Homo sapiens: one gene and its partners. The protein of the gene in region 1 purifies or fractionates together with the protein of each later gene. This does not show direct contact. Each region holds a gene or a part of one and is shown in the gene's direction. Other genes may lie near its edges.

Region 1 (3,500 bases):
TATTTACTCGCATGATCATGTGACTGATTGGGAGCTGTGGCTGGCTGCCGCTGCAGAGGATTGTTGAGAGAGTATCTTATTACATATTGCGAGCCTGGGAAAAGATCAAAATCCAGAATTTGAAGTATGGTTTGTATTGAATGCATGTCGCTTTCACACCATTGTAAAGTCGAAAAACTATCTCAAACCATCCTAAATTGGGGACCATCTGTATGTCGCTTAAAATGTTTCTTAGCTGTCTGTAAGTTCCCTTGCAGATGCAGCAGTCTTTTAAGCACAGCATATGGTTTTTGCAATTATAAAAATAGCATATGCTCCTTATAATACATTTTTAAAATACAGCAAAAGTTAAAGAAGATTAACCAAGTATCCCATATTTTGGTGCATAGCTGAACTTTCTGTAAATATATACCTTTATAAATATAGTTTGTTTAAATTGAATCATACTATGCATACTATTTTATGCCTTGATTTTTTTTCCATTGGTAATATATCTTCTCATGTCAGTATATAGTAAGCTATGTGATTTAAAAGTTGCATAGTATTTCATTGAATAAACATGCTATAATTTATTAAACTAAAAATATTGGTGGACATTTAGGTTATTTGCAACTTTTTGCTGTTGTAAAGAATACTTCAGGCCAGGTGTGGTGGCTCACGCCTGTAATCTCAGCACCTTGGGAGGCCAAAGCAGGTGGATCACTTAAGGCCAGGAGTTCGAAACCAGCCTGGCCAATGTGGTGAAACCCTGTCTCTACTAAAAATACAAAAATTAGCCGGGTGTGGTGACATGTGCCTGTAGCCCCAGCTACTCAGGAGGCTGAAGCACAAGAATTGTTTGAACCCAGGAGGCGAAGTTTGCAGTGAGCCCAGATCGCGCCACTGCACTCCAGCCTGGCCGAAAGAGTGAGACTCTATCTCAGAACAAAAACAAAAACAAAAACGAAACAAAACAAAAAACCACTTCAGTGAATATATTTCAGAGTATTTTAAAAAATAATTTCTAAAAATGGTTTTACTGAATCGAAAGCCTTTCCTTTTTTTTTTTTTTTGAAGACTTTTGATACTTATTACTAAATTTGTGTCCCCCAGGAGTCTTTTAAAATATTACCTGAATTTTTCTTTTGAAAATGGGTACAAAAGTGACCCATGTTTAAAAATTAAAGTGTCTGTGTGACTAACAAGCATATAAAAAATGCTTAACATCACTAATCATTAGAGAAATGAAAATCAAAACCACAATGAGATACCATCTCATGTCAGTCAGAATAGCTGTTACTAAAAAGTCAAAAAATAGCAGATGTTGGCAAGGTTTCAGAGAAATGGGACGCTTAAACACTGCTGGTGGGAATGTAAGTTAGTTCAGCCATTATGGAAGGCAGTGTGGCGATTTCTCAAAGAACTTAACACAGAAATACCATTCAACCCAACAGTCCCATTATTGGATATATGCCCAAAGGAATATAAATCATTCTACCATAAAGACACGTGCACACATATTCATCGCAGCACTATATGCAACAGCAAAGTCATGGAGTCAACCTCAATGCCCATCCGTGGTAGACTGGATAAAGAAAATCTGGTACATATTACACCATGGAATACGGTGTAGCCATAAAAAGGAATGAGATAATGTCCTTTGTAGCAACATGAATGGAACTGGAGGCCATAATCCTAAGTGAACTAACATGGGAATAGAAAACCAAATGTTCTCACTTCTAAGTGGGAGCTAAGCATTGATTACACACGGACACAAAGAAGGGAACAACAGACACTGGGGCTTACTTGATGATGGAGGGTGGGAGGAGAGAGAGGATCGAAAAAGTATCTATCAGGTACTATTCTTTTTACCTTGGTGATGAAACAACCTGTACACCAAGCCCCTGTGACACACAATTTACCTATATAACAACCATGCACATGTACCCCGAACCTAAAATAAAACTTAAAAAAAATTAAAGTGTCTGGTACGTAACTCCCCAGTAAATTTATTTTAAATCAGCTCTTTAGCTGATTTATGATTGTGTGTTAATTGTATCTAGCATTTGCATGGTTGTTAAGATGGATTGGAATCTGTTTGCTATGAAGTACAGTCAAAGGGAAATATTTATTTTTTCCCTTTCTTTTCTTTGACAAAGGAAAAACTGTCAGCCATAAAAGTCTTTTTTTTTTAAATAACTTATAGGTCAAAGAATTAGAAGAGCAACTAGAAAATGAAACACTCCACAAAGAAATACACAACCTCAAACAGCAACTGGAGCTTCTAGAGGAAGATAAAAAGGAATTGGAATTGAAATATCAGAATTCTGAAGAGAAAGCCAGAAATTTAAAGCACTCTGGTAAAAGCATTGAGTAGGCTACTATGTCTTACTATTAATCTTTGAATTACTCATGCCTAGTACAAAACCTGGCATATAGTTAGTCTAGAACATTTACTGAATGCTGTGGAAAAATACCAAGATTTGTTTTGAAATTCCTTAATTTCTAACCATTGCAATTCAGTAGAATAGCTGCTGTATTAAATAATTCAAAAATATTTAGACTAATTTTTTGGACTTAGAGCCCTTGTGAACATCATATACAGAATTTAGACACAGAGATACCGTTAGCCTAGGAAGACCAACTTTTCAGCATTTTTCAGAGCTTCAGAGATGAATGTTCATTATGTACTTTATTTTGTTCACTTAGAGTGCATTTTTAGAAAGAATTAAACTTTTTAAAAATACTGTCTTCATCTTTGGTGTTCATACTACCTTCATCTTTGGTGTCTAATAATACACATGAAATAATACTTTCTATATTGTACCTAACAATGAACTGGGCAACAATATATCTATTAAATGGAAAATCTTTAGAAACACCAGGGGATACTTAAATCAAAAGATTTATTCATTCAGTTCTAGAAGGCTTAACGGGAATGTGCGAGTTAGATTACTATACGGGCATATGTGTAAGTCTCTGTTGGAAGGTCGGTAATTTAAGAAGTCAGGTACATTCCCTTTATAATAGCTTCAATATTCACTTCAGATATTTTTGGTTAATTTTATACTAGAATTTTGAAACCTATGCAGAAGAACCATGTAGGCCTTTTTTCCTTCTAAAAGCATTCAGTGCTTTCTAATCCACAATGAAAATTGATTATAATTTATTTTTTAATTGATCCAAAATTAAGAAGTATTTCATTCTTTTTAGTGAATATCAGAGTAGCCTGTAGCCAAAGCCATCTTTATTATGAATAGAGGAGGCAGACACTGGAAATATATAAGGTTCAAATCTGAATGCCTTCTATTAATACTTATTATCTGCTGTGTGTGTACCCAGCCCTATCCTAGGAAACAATAAGAAATACAGAAGAAAAGAAACCATGCTTTTTGTCTTCAGAGAACTCAGATTCCCCTTGGAGGGATAGGTGCATGCACATAAAAAGACTAGAGGATTCTCAGTTTTGGAGAGCATAGCCCACACTGCCTATTTAAGTGTTGAGGGTAAATACAAATGGA
Region 2 (3,500 bases), on another chromosome or scaffold:
TTATTATCCTGTCCCACTACACTTTAATCCCCCATTGTGATAACACCGCAGGCACAGACGCTGTTGCTTTAACAATGCAGCCTTTCGGGGCTGATGACTGGGAGTGGGGAATGCATGCTTGGGCCCTACTCTACACGGACTGAATCACAGTTGGTGGAGGGGGGTGAGTTCCTGGATTTTGCATTTTTAATCATCTGCCTCACAGTAATTCTGTTGCTGATTAAAGTATGAGAACTCCTCTAGTAGGTTCCTTATTTAAAACAACAACAACAAAAACTTGTCTGAAACCTTTGGCACACCTACCTCACTCAGCCCAACCAGTCAGCCTAGTCAGTCTCATTAAGTCCTGTGGCTTCTGCCTGCCAATGTTCTCAAATTTGTTGCTCATCACCTGTTCCTTACTTTAGTTTCCTGGCTACAGTCTCCCCATTTGTCTCCGTTTGGGGATGGGCCCGATCATTAGGAACTCAACAGGATCCCTGTCCCTTTTCCCATTTAAAAACTCTTCCGTGGGTCCCTATTACCCCATGGATGAAGTCTAAACTCTGTATCAACACATACAAGGTCAATTTCTACCCGGTTTTTCCTCTTCCCCCAGTATATTCCTTGTGCTTCCCGGTAGCCAGGAAGCACCTGGACTCAGGATTTGACAGCTTTGGAGAAGACTTTTTTGTGTGCTTTACATAGGAATTCTCATGCGTTAATTGTGTTTGAAAATATTTTATGGGCTGCTTCCGGGAGATCCCTTGTTGGCATTGCCTTCCTTTGGCATGCGCTTTTGCTTTGTGATTTTTTTTTTAAATGCTCTTTTCCCAACTCTGCAAAAGATTCTTAATTGCACAGGTTATGCTCTATATGACTCCAGGCTGAATAACCTCATGTTGCCGGGAATTAGTTTTGTGGGCTTGCCATTAAAAAATTGAGTAAACCACAATGATTCTTTTTAGATTGTAGTTTCCAAGTTATACCGATTTCCTTAAACCTATGGAGGTAGCATATGGTAAGATTTTAGTTTCTACTTCATATCTGTAATCCTCATCTAGTTCTCATTGGGTAGTTCAGTATTTAAAATGCTTTGGAAGGGATGACAGCTGTTTAAGAAATTGACTCCATAATCAAGGCGCTAGGAGTGACCCCCATCCTGGCTAACAAGAGAGGGGTACTTTTTCAAGTAATCTGAAGCCCCGCATGAGACATTCTAATTTAATAACCAGTAGTCAGTCAATGTGTCTTTTTTTTTTTTTTTTTAAGAAAGTCACTTTTGCATTTGCAGTGGAGGAGTTACCAATTGGGAATCTTCTCATCCCCTTAGTATGTAATTTACTCCGTTTTGTTTGAATTGGTAGTTTCAGGCCTTAGCTACCTTCTCAGGAGATAAAGATTAAAATGCTGTGTTCTCTAATAGCTTTAAAAAGTTAGAGCTTTTGATTTTGGATTTCATACCCAGAAGATTGGAGATTATGGGCTTTATAATTGCGATCACCATGGTTATGCTAACCTTTCACAGATAAGGATTAGTTATAAAGTTACTAGCATCTGTTTAAAAACGTCAATAAAGTTCTTAGTTTAGTTTTTGGAGTCTGCATATTCCAGGTGTTTTAATTCACTATTTCACTGCAGTTGTAACCTAAGCCTGCTGGTGTGCACTGTGGCTCCGACCACCATTTCATGGTATAGACTCAGTTCTTTTGAAAAGTCAGAAAACCTCCTCAATTGAATCTGCGAACCACGTATGTAAACCATGCACAAATGCTCTTTAAAACCCTTACAGCTAGGCACTTTTCCAGACCCCAGGAAAAACAACCCTGCGGCCCTGAGGTGTGGTGGGCCTGGGTTTCATTAAATTGACACTGTCATCTGTGTTCCGGAAGGAGCCACCGAGCTAGCTAGTGGTGATACTGGTGATAAATGTGTTTACGTGCTAAGCCACAGATTCAAAAGGAGCTGGTAAGAGCCAGTAGCATGTTCTAGATTCCTGAACTGACTTGACTCTGGGTAGTTTTACACACACCTTAATTTTTCCCTCTCCATGAAGGTGCTAATGATACTAAAATCCCACACACTGTGTCGTTGGGTGGAATGTCCAATAAAATGTTTGGAAGAGTATCAAATGATACATAAAATACCTAACACTAATTGCAATACTTAGGGCAGAGTACTTTGAAATTGTGCCAGTGGATAAAGATGCTCAGTTATAAAGAGGTGTGAATTTAACTTACTTGAAGGGTAACGAAAGCTCTGCTGGCAAGAGAAGAGGCAGAAAATAATGGGTTGCCCTGTGTTTTGAAGGTTGGTCTACTTTATTTAAAGGGCTTCCTCCCTAAGTGATTAAAGCAGAATTTTAAAAGGACACTTTGATTTAAGATATCAATTACTTGTGTTGCATGACTCCATTTTTTTTCATAAATGAAAATTTCTCCAGTGAGAATCCTGAGCAATTCCTAGAACACTGCTGTATTTAATTCTGAATTCTCCCTTCTAGAAGGACTGTAGATCACAGTGTTCAAACAAGACTTATGTGCCTGTGGGCATTCCAAATTCCTTTGCTGGCCTTACAGTGCAGAGGTGAATATAGAACTGTTCCTCAATCCTTTTTCTTAGAGTACAGGTTGAGCATCCCTAATCCGAAATGCTCCAAAATCTGAAACTTTGAGCACCGACATAACACAAAAAAATGCTGATTCGGGATTTCCAGATTAGGGACTTTGAGTCAGTGAGTGTGATGCAGATATTCCAAAGTGGAAAAAAAAAAAAATCCAAAACACTTTCGGTCCCAAGCATTTTGGATAAAGGATATTCAACGTGTATTTTCAGGGCCAGTGCCTTGGATCATGCTTTGGAAAACAGTAGTGGCATAGTTTTTTGTTTTTGTTTTTCAAAGATGGGGTCTTGCTGTGTTGCTCAGACTGATTTCGAGCTCCTGGACTCAAGGGATCCTCCAGCCTGAGACTCCTGAGTCACTAATGTTACTGGTGCACACTGCAGTACCTGGCTGAAGTTTTATAAATGGCTTAACACTGAATCTTTTAACTGTATAAGGCAGTAGCTAAGTGGCCCAGTTGCATGTGGAATTTTGAGGAAGATGGTCATGGGTTTCTCAGTCCAAGTGTTTGTTCCTACGTGGGGGTTTGTCTAATTTGGAGCTGGAGGCTTGATGTTGAGAAGAGAGAGGAAAGAGCTTACTATTAACTCCCTTTGGTATGAGATGCAAGAATATGACAGGACTTTTTTTTTTTTTTTTTTTTTAATTTGAGTTCTGGGATGCAGTACAGAACGTGCAGGTTTGTTACATAGGTATACATGTGCCATCGTGGTCTGCTATACCTATCAACCTGTCATCTAGGTTTTAGACCCTGCATGCATTTGTCCTAATGCTCTCCCTCCCCTTGCCCCCCACCCCCTGACAGGCCCAGGTGTATGATGTTCCCTTCCCTGTGTTCATGTGTTCTCATTGTTGGGCTCCCACTTATGAGTGAGAACATGTGGTGTTTGGTTTTCTG
Region 3 (3,500 bases), on another chromosome or scaffold:
TTTCACTGATGTCTCAAATCCGTCCCATGAGCACTGACTGAGTGCCAGGCAGATGCAAGTCCCTGTGGGGGGTGCTGGGTGCAACGGCACGTGTGAACGAGGTGGAGGGTTGTGTCTGCTCTCACAGAGTGCTGGTTTGCAGGTAGCTGTACACAGCATGCTTGGGGTTGTCGGGTGGGCTTCCTGGAGGAGGTGGCATTAAGGGGCAGGTTGAGTAGGAGTTCACCATAAAGGGGATTGCAGCAGGAGGTGGTAGTGTGGGCAAAGGCCGGGAGGCTGGAAGGGACGTGAACCTGGGGAACAGGCAAGGTCAGTGATCCCCTGGGGCTGGTATCCAGGGCCAGGGTGGATGGCCTCAGAGACCAGGCTGAGGAAGGGACCTTCCCCCTGAGGACAGTCAGGAGCTATAGAGGACATGAAAACTGAGAGGACAGCAAGTTTTCACTAAAGAACTGCATGTATAGGCCAGGCATGGTGACTCAAACCTGTAATTCCAGCACTTTGGGAGGCCAAAGTAAGAGGATTGCTTGAGCCTAGGAGTTCAAGATCAGCCTGGGCAACATAGTGAGACCCCATCTCTATATTAAAAAAAATTTTGGCCGGGTGCGGTGGCTCATGCCTGTAATCCTAACACTTCGGGAGGACGAGACGGGCGGATCACAAGGTCAAAAGATGGAGACCATACTGACCAACATGGTGAAACCCTGTCTCTACTAAAAATACAAAAAAAATTAGCTGGGTGTGGTAGCGAATGCCTATAGTCCCAGCTACTTGGGAGGCTGAGGCAGGAGAATCACTTGAACCTGGGAGGCGGAGGTTGCAGTGAGCCGAGATCGTGCCACTGCACTTCAGCCTGGCAACAGAGTGAAACTCCGTCTCAAAAAAAAAAATTTTTTTTTAATTAGTCCGACATGGTGGCACATGCCTGTATTCTAGCTACTCAGGAGGCTGAGGTGGGAGAATCCTTTGAGCCCAGGAGTTGGAGGCCGCAGTGAGCCATAATCGTGCCACTGCACTACAGCCTGGGCAATAGAGTAAGTCTGTCTCAAAAATAATAATAATAAAAAATAATTATCCCAGCTCTTTGGGAGGCCAAGGTGGGCGGATCCCTGGAACCCAGTAGTTTGAGAATATCGTGGGCAACATGGTGAAACCTTGTCTTTACCAAAAAAAAATAACAAAAATTAGCCAGGCGTGATGGCACACACCTGTGGTCCCAGCTACTCGGGAGGCTGAGGCGAGAGGATCCCTTGAGCCCAGGAGGTCGAAGCTGCAGTGAGCCAAGATTGCTTCACTGCACTCCAGCCTGGGCAGCAGAGCCAGACCCTGTATCAATAAATAAATAAATAAAACTTTAAAAAAATCCATGAACTATGAAACCAGCAGCCGTCCCTCTAAAACTGGAGGAGCACGCAGGGCTGAGCTGTAATTGAGGTTGTCTAGGGATGATGCTCCCATCTCAGCCATTGCTAATGTGGGCCTCGCCCTGCACTGGGCGCAGAAAGCCCTGCCAAAGCCACTGCCATTCCCACCACTGCGTAGATGGAGACTGGGTGGGAGGGGTGAGGCCTCTGTCCCGGGGCTCAGTTTCCCCAGCCTTACCGATTTCTGAACGAGTCTATCTGCGGCTCCCCCTGGTGGCTCAAGATGGAATAGCACCCTGCCCTTTGTGTTTTGGGGAGACTTTTTTTTTTTTTTTGAGACGGTGTCTCACTTTGTCACCCAGGCTGGAATGCAGTGGCGCATTCTGGGCTCACTTGAAACCTCCGCCTCCTGGGTTCAAGCGATTCCCCTGCCTCAGCCTCCCGAGTAGTTGGGATTACAGGTACCTGCCACCACACCTGGCAAATTTTGTATTTTTAGTAGAGACGGGGTTTCACCATGTTAGCCAGGCTGGCCTCGAACTCCTGTCCTCAGGTGATCCACCTGCCTCGGCCTCCCAGAATGCTGGGATTACAGGCGTGTGTCACTGCGCCTGGCCTGGGGGAGACTTTTGAGTCTTTTTGAGGTGACACCTGGAGACTGCACAATCACTGGGGCAGGCCCCCCACAACACCCAAGAGTGGCATACTTAGGTGTCCAGGTCCCACCCGGCTACAGTTGGGGGTGGTGGGTCTCCATTTATCACCAACTCCCATCAGAAACGGGCCTGAGAAGCGTCTCTGTGGCTACCAGAGTTTTCCCAGTTTAAGTTCTCACATATATTTGTGTTGTCATTTCCTTTTTTTGAGACAGAGTCTCGCTGTTACCCAGGCTGGAATGCAGTGGCAAAATCACAGCTCACTGCAGCCTCAACCTCCTTGACTCAAGCGATCCTTCCACCTCAGCCTCCTAAGTAGCTGAGACCACAGGTGCATGCCACTACCATGCTCAGCTAATTTGTTAATTTAGGTTTTTGGTTTTTTTGGTTTTTATTTTTTTGAGATGGAGTCTTGCACTGTCGCCTGGGCTGGAGTGCAATGGTGCGATCTTGGCTCACTGCAACCTCCGCCTCCCAGGTTCAAGTGATTCTGCCCCACCTTCCCAAGTAGCTGAGTTTAACAGGCGCTTGCCACCACGCCTGGCTAATTTTTTGTATTTTTATTTTTATTATTTTTTGTTTGTTTGTTTTTTTTGAGACGGAGTCTCGCTCTGTCTCCCAGGCTGGAGTGCAGTGGCCCGATCTCGGCTCACTGCAAGCTCCGCTTCCTGGGTTCACGCCATTCTCCTGCCTCAGCCTCCCGAGTAGCTGGGACTACAGGCGCCTGCTACCACATCCGGCTAATTTTTTGTATTTTTATTGGAGATGGGGTTTCACTGTGTTAACCTGGATGGCCTCGATCTCCTGACCTTGTGAGCCACCTGCCTCGGCCTCCCAAAGTGCTGGGATTACAGGCATGAGCCACTGCGCCCAGCTAGTTTTTTGTATTTTTAGTGGGGACAGGGTTTCAGTATGTTGGCCAGGCTGGTCTCGAACTCCTGACCTCATGATCTGCCCACCTCAGCCTCCCAAAGTGCTGGGATTACAGGCATGAACCACTGTGCCCGGCCTTCTTTTTTGCTTTTTTTGGAGATGGAGTCTCTGTCACCCAGGCTGGAGTGCAGTGTCACCATCATAGCTCGCTGCAGCCTTGAACTCCTGGGCAATCCTTCTGCCTCAGCCTCCCAAGGAGCTACAGATTTCCCCTTTTAAAAGCACACAAGCCATGTGGATTAGGGCCCACCCTAATGACCTCATTTTAACTCGATGACCTCTGTACACAACCCTGTGTCCAAATAGGATCATATCCTGGGGTACTGGTGGTTGGCACTGGGGAGACACAGTTCACCCCATGACATAGTGCATGATCTCATGACATCTCTTTGTGAAACCTCTCAGTGGCTTATTGGCCCATTTTATAGATGAGGAAAGCTGAGGCCCAGGCCAATCAAGAATATACAGCATGCCATCATTTCTTGGTTCATTCTACAAGCAATTACTGAGTGCCTGCTGTGTGCCAAGCCCCTGTGTTGGGCACTAG
Region 4 (3,500 bases), on another chromosome or scaffold:
TAGCTGGGCGTGGTTGTGCATGCCTGTAGTCCCAGCTACTTGGGAGGCTGAGGCAGGAGACTCGCTTGAACCCGGGAGGCGGAGGTTGCAGTGAGCTGAGATTGCACTGCTGCACTCCAGCCTGGGTGATAGTGAGACTCTGTCTCAAAAAAAAAAGAAAAGAAAAAAGAAATTTCTCGCTTTTTCCAGAAATACTTCCTCAATTGGGTAGGCATAATTGATATCTCAGAGAAGTTTAAATAAAATGGTAGCAGCAAAAGTACTTTGTAGAATACAGCCTGATGTGCAAACCAAAAGTGGTGATATTGTTAAGATTCAGTGAGTATATTTTTGCTTTGGAGTTTAGCTATTGAGTCTGTAAAATGTTTTGTTTCCAACCTAGGGATGATCTTTTATTCTCACCCTTTTTCCTGGTTGCAGTTATTTTTTTAGCTTTTAAAAAGTGACTTTCTTGAGGCTGAGTTAGAGACTAGCCTGGTCAACATAGTGAGACCCCTGTCTCTACCAGAAAAAAAAAAGGTGACTTCCTCCTTTCAGTTTTTTGTGAAGCATTGTGAATCAAATTTTTTTTTACTTAAGCAAATGCAATGTGTCACTGGAAGCCGAACCTCTGGTTTGAAATTTAATGCTGAGATTTGAAATATGAGAGTTCTCGAGCGGTATCTTACCCAATTTTAGTGATTATTACTTTGAAATGTTGACATCAGTTTCTTTCTTTATTTGTGCTAACCTGGCTTTCATGACCTATACTTCAGTTTCTCTATGACAACCAGACAAATCTTTTTAAAGTTCTCTAAGAAGAAGCATTTTTCATCTTGTTAGTCTTCACTGACTTCATATTTACAAAGAATAAATTCTGAACTCTTTTTTCCATCTTACAGAATTCTCTACAGTTTAGACCCTTATCTTAATTTTTATTAGATGATACAGGTTGACTTTCTAATTTAGAAAGTCGTGAACTAGCATTTTACTTAACCTTTTGCACCTCCCTATGCTCCTTATTAAATTAGAACAGGGTTTCTCAACGTTGGCACAATTGACATTTTGGGCCATATAATTCTTTTTTTTTTTTTTTTTTTTTTTTTTGAGACAGAGTCTCTATCTGTCACCCAGGCTGGAGTGCAGTGGCACAATCTCGGCTCACTGCAAGCTCAGCCTCCCGGGTTCACGCCATTCACCTGCTTCAGCCTCCCGAGTAGCTGGGACTACAGGCGCCCGCCACCAGGCCCAGCTAATTTTTTGTATTTTTAGTATAGACGGGGTTTCACTGTGGTCTTGATCTCCTGATCTCGTGATCTGCTCGCCTCGGCCTCCCAAGGTGCTGGGATTACAGGTGTGAGCCACCGCGCCTGGCCATATAATTCTTTATTATGGAGTTGTCCTGTGCACTGTGGGATGTTAAGCAGCATCTGTCTCTACCCAGTAGATGCCAATAAGACTTCCTCAGTTGTGACAACCAAAAATGTCTTCAGACATTGCCATATGTCTCCTGGAGGACAAAATTGCCCCTGGTTGAGAATTGCTGCGTTAGAAAGTATCGTAGCTATGATTGTACAATGTCCCCAACTAAATTCTGTGAGGGCAGGCCCCATAGCCATACTTAGCACAGTCGATGGTACATGATAAGCACTCAGTATCCTACAATGAATGAATCATTTGTTTCTGTTGAAGCTTCAAGAAATTACTGTTCCTTCAAGGAATTTCTGGGTGGGCAGGTTGGAGTACAATGGTGCAATCATGGCTGATTGCAACCTCCAACTTTTGGGCTCAAGTAATCTTCTCGCTTCAGCCTCCTGAGTAGCTGGGACTACAGTTCTTTTTCTTTCTTTTGTTTTTTGTTTTTTTGAGATGGAGTTTTGCTCGGTCGCCCAGGCTGGAGTGCAGTGGCGTGATCTTGGCTCACTGCAACCTCCCCCTCCCGGGTTCAAGCAGTTCTCCTGCCTCAGCCTCCTGAGTAGCTGGGACTAGAGGCACACACCACCACACTCAGCTAATTTTTGTATTTTTAGTAGGGACAGGGTTTTGCCATGTTGGCCAGGCTGGTCTCGAACTCCTCAAGGGAACCACCCACCTCAGCCTCTCAAAGTGCTGGGATTACAGGCATGAGCCACCATGCGCTCGGCCAAATGTTTGATTTTTTTCAGAGACAGGGTCTTGCTATGTTGCCTGGGCTGGTCTTAAACCCCTGGCCTCAGGTGATTCTCTGGCCTCAGTCTCCTGAGTCACTGGGATTACAGGCATGAGCCACCACACCTGGCAGATGTGATCTTAAGAGAAGTGCCATTGGTTTGAGTACTAGAAGCAAGCTTCTTGTTGATGGTGTAAGTCAGCAGATTTCCCTCTCTATTGAAAATTGTGTGAATTCCTGTTTTGTTTGTGTTCCTTGTATTTAGAGTGCTTGGTTTTAGTGGACAGGGACTATCATTTATTTTAAAGTTGCATATAGGCTGGGCGTGGTGATTCACGCCTGTAATCCCAGCATTTTGGGAGGCCAAGGCGGGTGGATCACCTGAGGTCAGGAGTTCGAGACCAGCCTGGCCAACATGGTAAAACCCCGTCCCTACTAAAATTACAAAAATTTGCTGGGTGTGGTGGCATGTACCGTAATCCCAACTACTAGGGAGGCTGAGGCAGGAGAATCACTTGAACCCGGGGAGGTGGAGGTTGCAGTGAGCTAAGATCGTGCCACTGCATGATCTGCGCCAGCTTGGGTGACAGAGCAAGACTCCGTCTCAAAAAAACAAAACAAAACAAAAAAAAACAAACAAACACTAAAGTTGCATATAGTTTATGGAGTTATTCACATTTATTTTAGTTGATAAAATTATACAGTCATGTGTTGCTTAATGACAGGTACATTCTGAGAAATTTGTCATTAGGTGATTTCATCATTGTGGGAACATCATAGAGTGTACTTGCACAAATTTAGATGATACTGCACATGGTGTAACTTATTACTCCTGGGCTACAAACCTGTATAGTATGTTACTGTATCTAATACTGTAGGCAGTTTGTAACACAGTGTAAGTATTTGTTTATTTAAACTTTTTTTTTTTTTTTTTGAGACGGAGTCTCACTCTGTCGCCCAGGCTGGAGTGCAGTGGCACGATCTTGGCTCACTGCAACCCCCGCCTCCTGGGTTCAAGCAATTCTTCTGCCTCAGCCTCCTGAGTAGCTGGTACTACAGGTGCGCACCACCACGCCCAGCTAATTTTTGTATTTTTAGTAGAGATGGGGTTTAACTATATTGGCCAGGCTGGTCTCAAACTCCTGACCTTGTGTTCTGCTAGCCTTGGCCTCCCAAAGTGCTGGGATTACAGGCATGAGCCATCGCGCCCGGCCACATTTTTAAAGTACAGTAAAAATAGGGTATTATAATCTTATGGGATTTTGTGTTGATTAATCCCCATATAATCCCATATAATCTTATGGGACCACTGTTGATTTTGTGGTCCATCCATTGACCAAAATGTCATTATGTAATGCATGACTGTAGTTTC
Region 5 (3,500 bases), on another chromosome or scaffold:
ACCTGCTATACACCAGCCACTGAGTGCCCAGAGACCCGCCCACCCCCACTGATCCCGGGGCTGAGACCCTTGAGTTGTAACATCAGGGGACAAGACCCTTGTCCGAGGCAGGGACCCTGGATGGGGATGTGATTTCTCCTGGAAGTATCAAAGAAGATTCAGAAAGGAGAGGCATTTGGGTTGGACATGACTGGCAGACGGTGTCAGAAGTCAGGAGTCAGGATTGGCATAGGAAGCAGCTGAAGGAAGGGCACAGGGGCTTGGGAGAATACGGACCCAGCGTAGCATGGGCGTGAAGATGCAGCGTGGGCAGTAGACGAGGTGGTCAGGGTCAGATAGTCCCTCGGGAGGTCACATCCCACTCTTCTCTGTCCCTAGAGTCTGCTTTGGATGACCTGGACCTGAATGAGTTTGGCGTGGCCGCCCTGGAGAAGACTTTCGATAACAGCACAGTGCCCCACCCAGGAAGCATCACCATCGGTACTGGGTGTGGGTGGGCAGGGCAGCCTGGAGGACTCCTCGGGTTCCTGCCTGGCTCAGGCCCCTTGCTCTGTGTGGCCCGCCTGGCTTCCGCTGCCCTCACCCAGCCCGTCCTCCCCGGGCCTCTCTTGCAGGCGGCAGCTTGCTGCAGAGCTCTGCACCCGTGAACATCCCCGGCTCCTTGGGCAGCTCTGCCTCCTTCCACTCAGCATCCCCGTCCCCTCCCGTCAGCCTCTCCTCGCATTTCCTGCAGCAGCCCCAGGGCCACCTGAGTCAGTCGGAAAACACATTTTTGGGAACCTCAGCATCACATGGATCTTTGGGTAAGAGAGGGAGTGGTTCACTCAGGAGAACTGGGGCAGGAACCTGCGCCTTTAGGAGGTGCCTCTGGCCACCCCATCTACGGCATATCAGCTAGGCTGGGGGTTAGGGCAGAGGCCTTGGGCGAGGAGGCAGAGTCAGATTCCTGTCTGTGTGACCCTGGACAAGTGATTGAGCCTCTCTGCCTTAGTTTCCTCTGCTGTGAAATGGGTATAACGGCAGCATCCACCTCCTAACGTTGTGAGCATTGAATGGAGTAATGGGGCTGAAGTGCTAGGCACGAGGCCAGTGCAGGTGAGAGCAGGGGTCTCAGTTGCCAGGGCTGGGCCTGGTCTCTTTCACAGCATGGTTCTGTTCTGCCCAGTCACCCCAGGCTCCGAGAGGCTGGCTCGCACCAGCCAGGTTCACAGGGGACCAAGGGAGAAGCCAGACAGGTTAACCCCTGGCTTCGGGTGCCCTTCCTGCCGGGCAGAGGCTCCAGGGAGGCCCAGGGCTGGCCCAGAAGGCTGTTTGCCCACAGAATTAGAATGGTATGGAATGGGGGTTTCTGAGGGCACTTCAAGGTTTAGTGGCTAGAAGAATGGCACAGAGGCCTGTGCCACTGCGGGCCGGCTGTGCATCTCCTCTTGTGTGTGTCAGGGGATGTTCCTGAGGGCGGGATGGGAAGCACATGGCACCACCGCTCTCACTCTCCCCCAGCAGCTGCAGACACCAGGAGCTCCCTCCCCGAGAGTGCCAGCATTTTGCTCGGGCCCAGGGAATGAGCCCTTCAGAGTTCTGATTGGGTTTGGTGGCTTCCCTTATCTCATTCCTGATCCCAGAACAGCACATGGATTTCTCAGCGCCTTCCAGTTTGAAGAGGCTGTTCTCTGTTACGTTGATTCTGTCAGCTTTAGGTGCTTGGTGTTGCATTTTTCGGACTTGCCCCATATTCGGATAGGATCTGTTTTTTTTTTTTCGAGTAGGGTCTCAGTCTGTCACCCAGGCTGGAGTGCAGTGCAGTGGCATGATCCTAGCTCACTGCAGCCTGGAACTCCTGAGCTCAGGTAATCCTTCCACATCAGCCTCCTGAGTAGCTGGGACCACAGGCGTGCACCACCATGCCCAGCTTCTGGTGGCGTCTAGACTTAGCTCCACTTACTGGCCACACACTCCTTCCTGCACCATGTGACTATTGAGCACAGGTGTATTGATACAGGTGTAAGTGCAACAGTCCCTGCTGTCCAGCAGCTGTGGCCAGTGTGGGAAGCAGAGGTGCCCAGCCATTGGGATCCTCCTGAGAATCATAGAGGGGCCTACCTGGACAGCAGAGTCAGGAGAGCTTCTCCAAGGGAGGAGGAGAGATGGGTGGGACAGGAGAGCTTGCTGCAGGGCTGGTCTCATGTGGGTGGGGTGACCCTGAGGTCTTCCTCTGGGATGGGGCAGATGGCTCAGACAGTGCATGCCACAGGGTCTCCGCACAGGACCATGTCCCTCCTCTGTGGGTGCACTTGTGTGTCTCAGAGAGCAAAGCGTCTTAAATCTGGTTCTGGAACATCCTGGTTGGATTAGTGGGAAAGGGAGCAAGGAAGAAGTCACCAGAAAGTACATATGGGCAGAGTGAGGCCAGAGGTGGATATGGGTCCTTCTCGGAAGCCCGGGGCTGCCCTGGGGGCCAGAGCAGGGGGACCTGATGTTAGTAAACATCTGTTGAGCGAGTGAGCAGAGGGCAGCTGGGTTGGCGGTGGGTGGGAGGCTGTGCACGCAGCATAGTTGACTGGAAAGCATAGGCCTTTGGAACCACACTCCCTGTCTGTGTCCTGGCCCTACCACTTACAATTTGTGTGATTCTTGGTAAAACATTTTATCCAGGGTCCTTGTCTGTAAAACAAGGGGGATGGCCCCAAGGCTCCCTGAGCTCTTCCTGCCCCAGCTCTGCCATCCGATGAGGCTCTGGCCTGTCTTTTCCCCTTTATCTCTTCCTGGGCCTCACATCAGGCTGCAAAAAGGCCCTAGCCTAAAAGTGAAGCCACAATCATAAATTGCCACTATCGGGGGCCTGGGACTGCTCTCACATGCAGTACTTCCTGAGTCCCCTGAGTTACCCGGTGAGGCCAGTGTGGGAGTCCCATTTCCCACATGAGGGTGCTGAGCCTCGGAAGTTGAGTGGCACCAACTAGCAGGTGTCACTCAAGGTTAGGTCTGACTCCGCCCACGCCACCTGCACCTTCACAGCCTTCCTGTCCCTGCAAAATTCTCTGGCCTGACACTAGCTGGAGCCTTGCACACCCATCCAGTGGACAGCCAGTCCCTGGAACCTCTGAGGCAGGGCTGGCCAGGGCCTGGGCCCAAAGCCCTCCGGAGCTGATGTTCTTCCCCTCCTTGGGGCAGGTCTGAACGGGATGAACAGCAGCATCTGGGAGCATTTTGCCTCTGGAAGCTTCTCCCCGGGCACTTCCCCCGCTTTCCTATCAGGGCCAGGGGCTGCCGAGCTGGCCCGACTTCGGCAAGAGCTGGATGAAGCCAACAGCACCATCAAGCAGTGGGAGGAGTCCTGGAAGCAGGCCAAGCAGGTACCAGGCCCCGTGCCTGCCGGCCTTCCCCAGTGCCAGGTGGCATCCAGCCCAAGACCTTCCTTCACAGAGTGGGCGTGGGGTGGGGGAAAGCGGGGGCTGGAAGAACAGAGCAGAAACTCAGTTTTGTTCGCTCGCTCTCCCCCT
Region 6 (3,500 bases), on another chromosome or scaffold:
GTATAGGATTCTGTGGATTTTTTTTTTTTTTTAGTTGGAGTTTCATTCTTGTTGTCCAGGCTGGAATGCAATGGCGTGATCTCAGCTCACTGCAACCTCCGCCTCCTGGGTTCAAACAATTCTCCTGCCTTAGCCTCCCGAATAGCTGGGATTATAGGCCCCTGCCACCATGCCCAGCTAATTTTTTGTATTTTTAGTAGAGACGGGGTTTCACCATATTGATCAGGCTGATCTCGAACTCCTGACCTCCAGTGATCCACACCCCCCCCCGCTCCCTTGGCCTCCCAAAGTGCTGGGATTACAGGTGTGAGCCACTAGGCCTGGCCTGTGGATTGTTATAACAATTTTGACTTTTATTCTGGAGATCATAAGCCACTATTAGGAGTTTTGAAGGAGGTAATGATATGATTCTGAGTTTAACTTTTAAAGGGTAATTTTGGCTGCCATGTGGGATGGGGGAAAAATTTAGGAAATTATCCGTAAACGTCTGTCTGTATAGAATTCATACTCTTTGAAGGTGACATCAGAGAAGACAATCTCTTCATGAATCTTTTGAGGGGGCCTCAATCTTTTCTGTGAAATAGCACTTCATGTTGGTCAATTTACATGTTAATTACATTTGATTCTTTGACATTGTAGTCTTAATAATTGCTAACATGAATTTAATAATTGCTAACATGATTTGATTCTTTAGATGGCCGCCAAGAACGAGTCATGTTTGACAAAATTACATCTCGAATCCAGAAGCTTTGTTATGGACTCAATATGGATTTTGTTGATCCTGTAAGTAAATATGGTTTTTATCTTGGGTTCCTTCTTTCATGTGTTTCTTTCCATTTGTCTCTTATCCCTGGACCTTCATTCACCTGATATACTTTGGTATTCTGGCTATGCCCTTCGATATAAAATTTGAATTCATTGCTTAAAACATTTTTTTTTCCTTAATTTTGGTTCTGTCCTGTGAGTTCTCACTTTTCAGAGAACTATGAATGTGAGTAAAGAGGAAAATTTGATATTAACATTTAATATCAGATATTTCCTTGAGTAAATTGTTTTATTCATTAGTGGAAAAGCCTAGGCCAGGCGCCGTGGCTCACGCCTGTAATCCCAGCACTTTGGGAGGCTGAGGTGGGCAGATCACCTGAGGTCAGGAGTTCAAGACCAGCCTGGCCAACATGGTGAAACCCCGTCTCTACTAAAAATGCAAAAATTAGCCGGGCCTGGTGGTGGGCGCCTGTAATCCCAGCTACTTGGGAGGCAGGAGAATCACTTGAACCTGGGAGGCAGAGGTTGCAGTGAGCCGAGATCGTGCCACTGCACTCCAGCCTGGGCGACAGAGCGAGACTCCCTCTCAAAAAAAAAAAAAAAAGGGAAGCCTAGAGTAAAGCTTGTTTTGGAATTGTGGTTATTTAGGTAGGGACTGGTTTAAAATTTGTTTTTTGTTATTTATGTAAAAAGATTTAAGTAATATAAAGTAGATTTCATGGACAATATTTAAGTCAAGAACAAACTATTCATAAACCAGTTGCTCTGCTTTTCTCCTTATCCTTTATAACTTCTGTATTCTAGACTCTCATCATCAGTTATCTGGACTGTTTTCTGTGGTCTCTGCAGTGTCCTGGACTTCCTCTAATCTTACCCTCTTCAAACTCGTCTTCCACCTGACTTCTAAAATGATCTTCCTTAAATGAGAATCTCTAAGAACTCTTTTTTTCAAATCCACCCATATTTCCGTCTCCTTATTTAGGTATCTTATCCGCACTGCTAAGGTATCTTAGGTATCTTATCCGTAAAACCTGTGCTCATCTCATAGCTTTAATCATATAGTATGGAAATTAATTATGGATCTTTGTCCTCCCCTAGAATTGAGGATGGGCTGTGTATCTTATTCTTGTGATATCCTCAGTGCTTGACATGTATCTAATTAGCCACTTGACCAAAGTAAGTTTGGTCAAGAGAAAATGATTTTATGTATCTTGAAAATATGTTTATTGTAAATTCTCTTTTATATTGAGGACTTAGGCAATAATTAGAATAGTAGAATGTTAGAGTTGGAATGAACTTAAGAGTCCATCCCATTTCATCTTTGGTTTATAGATAAGAAAGTTCCAAAGAGAGAGGGGAGTGACTTAAGTTAGTGGGAGTGTAGGGAGAAGCACCTAGGTCTCTTGACTCCTACATGTTCTATTGCCTCATGCAGTAGTACATTTTAGAGCGCAAGAATGTTGCAGCATCCTCAAACTTCCTAGGGTAGATTCTGTTGAAAAACTGTCGGTGCACATCTGTAATCCCAGCACTTTGGGAGACTGAGGTAGGCAGATTGCTTGGGCTCAGGAGTTTGAGACCAGCCTGGGCAACATGGTGAAACTGCCCAGGTGCAGTGGCTCAATCTTGGCCCACTGCAGCCTCCACCCCTGGGGATCAAATGATTCTTGTGCCTCAGCCTCCCTCAGCTGGGATTACAGGCATGTGCCACCACGCTATTTTTTTTTTTTTTTTTTTGTATTTTTAGTAGAGACAGGGTTTTGCTATGTTGGCCAGGCTCGTCTTGAACTCCTGACCTCAAGTTATCTGTCCGCCTTGGCCTCCCAAAGTGCTGGGATTACAGGTGTGAGCCACACTGTGCCTGCCCTCAACCCTGTTTCTACAAAAAAAAAAAAAAAAAAAAAATTGGTTGGGTGTGGTGGCGCATACCAGTAGTCCCAGCTACTTGGTGGTGGGAGGATCGCTTGAGCCCTGGAGGTTGAGGTTGCTGTGAGCTGAGATTGTGCCACTGTACTCCAGCACAGGCCACAGAATGAGACCCTGTCTCAAAAAGAAAAAAAGAAAAACTGTGTGCTGTTAGATCTGGCACAGTTAGCACACAGATGGTATTTTATTCTGAGTTCTAATTGTTTGCCTTATTGCTCTAGAAACTATTTAGAAGACTTCACTGCTCTTATACTGAACACACCTTATCTGCTGGATCTGGGAAGAAAGTGATCAGGAGCAACTTGGGCTTAGCTATATTATAATTAGAATAGATTGCAGACTGTTAAAATAGTTACACACGTATGTGTCTTTTTTTGAGGGGAGTATGCATTGTTCAGCTGGGAAACACATTTATTTTCTGTTGGATTAAGCGGTTTCTTAAAGATTCAATAAATAAACCACTCACAACTTAGAATTTGTTTTTCTTAAAAATGTATGCTAATACCCTGTGCATTACCTGTCTTAAAAACTGGAACTTATAATGTGGCCTTGAAAACAGTGAAATGCAGTGAGGTTTAATGGGATTGGGGCCAGAAGACTTGTATAATAATATAACCTTGGGCAAGTCTCAGTAACCTGAGCCTCAGGTTCTTCATGTAAAATAGGTATAGTAATAATCATCTCACAAAGTGATTGTGAAATGTCAGAGATTATCAAAGTTGATAATTACTTATCAACTTTGGTTGAGAATCATTTGAACCTCGGGGGCGGAGGTTGCACTTTGTAATTTGTGAAGTGCTAAAGAAAGT
Region 7 (3,500 bases), on another chromosome or scaffold:
AATTTTTATAATTTTTGGTAGAGATGAGGTTTCACCACATTGGCCAGGCTGGTCTCGAACTCCTGATCTCAAGTGATCTGCCCGCCTCGCCCTCCCAAAGTGCTGGGATTACAGGCATGACCCACTGCACCTGGCCTAGAGATGAGATCTTGCTCTGTTGCTTAGGCTGGAAGTGTAGTGGCGTGATCATAGCTCACTGCAGGCCCCAAACTCCTGGGCTTAAATAATCCTATCACCTCAGCTTCCTGAGTAGCTAGGACTTGCAGGCATGTGCCACTACTCCAAAACTGTATTTTTTTTTTTTTTTTTATAGAGCACAGTCTATGTTGCCTAGGCTGGTCTTAAACTCCTGGCCTCAAGTGATCCTCCCACCTTAGCCTCCCAAAGTGCTGGGATTACAGGCGTGGGCCACCGTGCCTGGCTAATTTTTCTAGTTTTTGGTAGAGACAAGGTTTCATCATGTTGGCCAGGCTGGTCTTGAACTCCTGGCCTCAAGTGATCCTCCCACCTTGGCCTCCCAAAGTGCTGGGATTACTTTGGGAGGCCGCCGAGCCTGGCCTCCTGTTCATCCTTTGAGCTTCTGCTTAAACATCACTTCTGAGAGTCCTTCTCTGATTTCTCATCTAGGTTAGGTATTTCTCTGCTGTGTAGCCCTGTCTATACTTTTGCTGGCATTATGATTTCTTACATTTATTATAGTTACTCCATTAATTGCATGCCTTCCTTGCTAGATTGTAAGTTGTAAGGACAGGAACCATGTCATCTTGTTCAGAGTTGTGTCCCTAGTACTAGCATTGTGCCTGGCATATATCTGTAGTGTGTGTGTGTAATTTTTTTTTTTTTTTTTTTTTTAGTAGAGATGGTGTTTCACCATGTTGCCCAGGCTGATCTCAAACTCCTGGCCTCGAGTGATCCACCTGCCTCTGTCTCCCATATGTGCCAGCCCTGGCATATATCTGATACTAGGATGTGTAAGGAATGAATCCAGTTGGTGTGTGTATGCCAGACACTGCCCCGGGCCAGGGGGATAGATGTAACACCACTAATACCTCAGCTGCTTTGTTTTGTTTTGTTTTGAGATGGAGCCTTGCTCTGTCGCCCAGGCTGGAGTGCAGAGGCACGATCTCAGCTCACTGCAACCTCCACCTCCTAGGCTCAAGCAATTCTCCTGCCTCAGCCTCCTGAGTAACTGGGAATACAGGCGCACACACCACGCCCAGCTAATTTTTGTATTTTTAGTAGAGACGGAGTTTCACCATGTTGGCCAGGCTCGTCTCAAACTCCTGACCTCAAGTGATCCACCCACCTCGGCCTCCCAAAGGGCTGGGATTACAGGTGTGAGCCACTGTGCCCAGCCTGGCATCTGCTCTTGAAGAGCTCAGAGTCGAGTCTAGTGGAAGGGATTGACAAAGTCACAGAGTGCTTTGGGAATACAATAGAGGGACCTTGGTAGGTTGTGAACGGTGTCACCAAGGAGGCGACATTTAAAACAGCTGTAGGTCCAGCACGGTGGCTCATGCCTGTAATTCCAGCACTTTAGGAAGCCGAGGCGGGAGGATCGCTTGAGCTCAGAAGTTCGAGACCAGCCTGGGCAACATGGAGAGATCCCGTCTCTACCAAAAATACAAAAACTAGCTGGGCATGGTGGTGCATGCTTGTGATCCTAGCTACTTGGGAGGCTGAGGTGAGAGGATCACTTGAGCCTGGAGGGCGGAGGTTGCATTGAGCCAAGATTGCCCCACTGCACTCCAGAGTCAGGCTTCAGTCATGACTTGATCACTTAATAGCCATGTGACCCTAGGCAAAATAATAACTTCACCTTTCTGTGACCCTTTCCTCCCCTATAAAATGGGATTACAGATACCAGGCTGTGATGCCATTAACTATGTCTGGCCCATGGTAAGCAGCTAATAAGTGTTAGTTATTATTGGGAGGCCGAGGCAGGCGGATCACCTGAGGTCAGGAGTTCGAGAGCAGCCTGGCTGGCCATCGTAGCGAAACCCCATCTCTGCTAAAAATAACAAAAATTAGCTGGGCATGGTGGTGGGCGCCTGTAGGCCCAGCTACTTGGGAGGCTGAGTCAGGGGAATTGCTTCAGCCTGGGAGGCAGAAGTTGCAAGTCACAGTGAGCCGAGATCGTACCACTGCACTCCAGCCTGGGTGACAGAGCAAGATTCTGTCTGAAAAAAAAAAAAAAGAAAAGAAAAGTATAATTTCTGATGGGTCATCATGGGGAGGGGAACATTCCATGCTAAGGGGTGCATTCATGGACAGGGACTGGGACTCAGGAGTCCACAGATTATGATCAGGGAGTGCCTGTCACCCTGGGGAAGGTGGTGGAGAATGGGGTTGGAAATACAGAGGGGGCCTTGAGTAACAGATTCCCAGTTATCTCCCTTTCTTCGCCATACTTTTTATCTCAAGTTCTCAGTTTAGGCCTTCTGATCAATACCATCCTACAGGACTCTCCCCAACATCCTCCACATTTCACACATATTTCTTCTGCTGGGGAAAGGTGCCTGCCTCTACTCTGCCTACTTTTTTTTTTTTTTCTTTTTGAGATGGAGTCTCACTCCATCGCCCCAGGCTGGAGTGCGGTGGCGCCATCTGGCCTCACTACAGCCTCCACCTCCTGGGTTTAAGCAATTCTCATGCCTTAGCCTCCTGAGTAGCTGAGATTACAGGCACCCACCACCACACCTGGCTAATTTTTGTATTTTTAGTAAAGACAGCGTTTCGCCATGTTGGCCAGGCTGGTCTCGAACTCCTGACCTCAAGCGATCCACCCGCCTTGGCCTCCCAGAGTACTGGGATTACAGGCGTGAGCCACCGTGCCTGGCCTGCTTACTTCTTTTTATGCTTCTTCCTCCTTTTTTTTGAGATGGGGTCCTGCCCTGTTGCCCAGGCTAGAGTGTAGTGGTCCAATCAGAGCTCTCTGCAGCCTTGAATTCCAGGGTTCAAGCCATCTTCCCTCCTCAGCGTCCCCATTAGCTGGGACTACAGGTGCTCACCACCATGACTGGCTAATTTTTAAATTCTTTGTAGAGACGGGGTCTCACTATGTGACCCAGGTTGGTCTCAAATTCCTGGGCTCAAGTAATTCTCCCACCATGGTCCCCCAAAACACTGGAATCACAGGTGAGAGCCACCACACCCAGCCCTCCTTTTCTTTCTTTCTGTTTTTTTTTTGTTTTTGTTGTTGTTGTTGTTTGTTTTTTTGAGATGGAGTCTTACTCTGTCACCCAGGCTGGAGTGCAGTGGCGTGATCTCGGCTCACTGCAACCTCCACCTCCCAGGTTCGAGTGAGTCTTCTGCCTCATCCTCCCCAGTAGCTGGGACTACAGCTGCATGCCACCAAGCCTGGCTAATTTTTGTATTTTTAGTAGAGACGGGGTTTCACCATGTTGGCCAGGCTGGTCTCGAACTCCTGACCTTGTGATCCACCAGCCTCAGGCTCCCAAAGTGCCAGGATTCCAGGCATGAGCCACCATGCCTGGCTG

What was found.
Region 2: the proteins of SHTN1 (region 1) and SMS fractionate together in Homo sapiens (co-fractionation; one large-scale study listed by BioGRID). This does not show direct contact.
Region 3: the proteins of SHTN1 (region 1) and COLGALT1 fractionate together in Homo sapiens (co-fractionation; one large-scale study listed by BioGRID). This does not show direct contact.
Region 4: the proteins of SHTN1 (region 1) and CAP1 fractionate together in Homo sapiens (co-fractionation; one large-scale study listed by BioGRID). This does not show direct contact.
Region 5: the proteins of SHTN1 (region 1) and UNK fractionate together in Homo sapiens (co-fractionation; one large-scale study listed by BioGRID). This does not show direct contact.
Region 6: the proteins of SHTN1 (region 1) and RRM1 fractionate together in Homo sapiens (co-fractionation; one large-scale study listed by BioGRID). This does not show direct contact.
Region 7: the proteins of SHTN1 (region 1) and TPM4 fractionate together in Homo sapiens (co-fractionation; one large-scale study listed by BioGRID). This does not show direct contact.

What each region holds. Positions count from the first base shown.
Region 1 is NC_000010.11:116,928,688-116,932,187, reverse strand, and holds part of SHTN1 (shootin-1), read left to right. Parts: intron 1-2,185; coding exon 2,186-2,339; intron 2,340-3,500. UniProt on the Homo sapiens protein: Involved in the generation of internal asymmetric signals required for neuronal polarization and neurite outgrowth.
Region 2 is NC_000023.11:21,947,209-21,950,708, forward strand, and holds part of SMS (spermine synthase), read left to right. Parts: intron 1-3,500. UniProt on the Homo sapiens protein: Catalyzes the production of spermine from spermidine and decarboxylated S-adenosylmethionine (dcSAM).
Region 3 is NC_000019.10:17,572,649-17,576,148, forward strand, and holds part of COLGALT1 (procollagen galactosyltransferase 1 precursor), read left to right. Parts: intron 1-3,500. UniProt on the Homo sapiens protein: Beta-galactosyltransferase that transfers beta-galactose to hydroxylysine residues of type I collagen. By acting on collagen glycosylation, facilitates the formation of collagen triple helix. Also involved in the biosynthesis of collagen type IV.
Region 4 is NC_000001.11:40,043,729-40,047,228, forward strand, and holds part of CAP1 (adenylyl cyclase-associated protein 1), read left to right. Parts: intron 1-3,500. UniProt on the Homo sapiens protein: Directly regulates filament dynamics and has been implicated in a number of complex developmental and morphological processes, including mRNA localization and the establishment of cell polarity.
Region 5 is NC_000017.11:75,819,306-75,822,805, forward strand, and holds part of UNK (RING finger protein unkempt homolog), read left to right. Parts: intron 1-378; coding exon 379-480; intron 481-614; coding exon 615-803; intron 804-3,171; coding exon 3,172-3,353; intron 3,354-3,500. UniProt on the Homo sapiens protein: Sequence-specific RNA-binding protein which plays an important role in the establishment and maintenance of the early morphology of cortical neurons during embryonic development.
Region 6 is NC_000011.10:4,101,299-4,104,798, forward strand, and holds part of RRM1 (ribonucleoside-diphosphate reductase large subunit), read left to right. Parts: intron 1-694; coding exon 695-783; intron 784-3,500. UniProt on the Homo sapiens protein: Provides the precursors necessary for DNA synthesis. Catalyzes the biosynthesis of deoxyribonucleotides from the corresponding ribonucleotides.
Region 7 is NC_000019.10:16,089,995-16,093,494, forward strand, and holds part of TPM4 (tropomyosin alpha-4 chain), read left to right. Parts: intron 1-3,500. UniProt on the Homo sapiens protein: Binds to actin filaments in muscle and non-muscle cells. Plays a central role, in association with the troponin complex, in the calcium dependent regulation of vertebrate striated muscle contraction.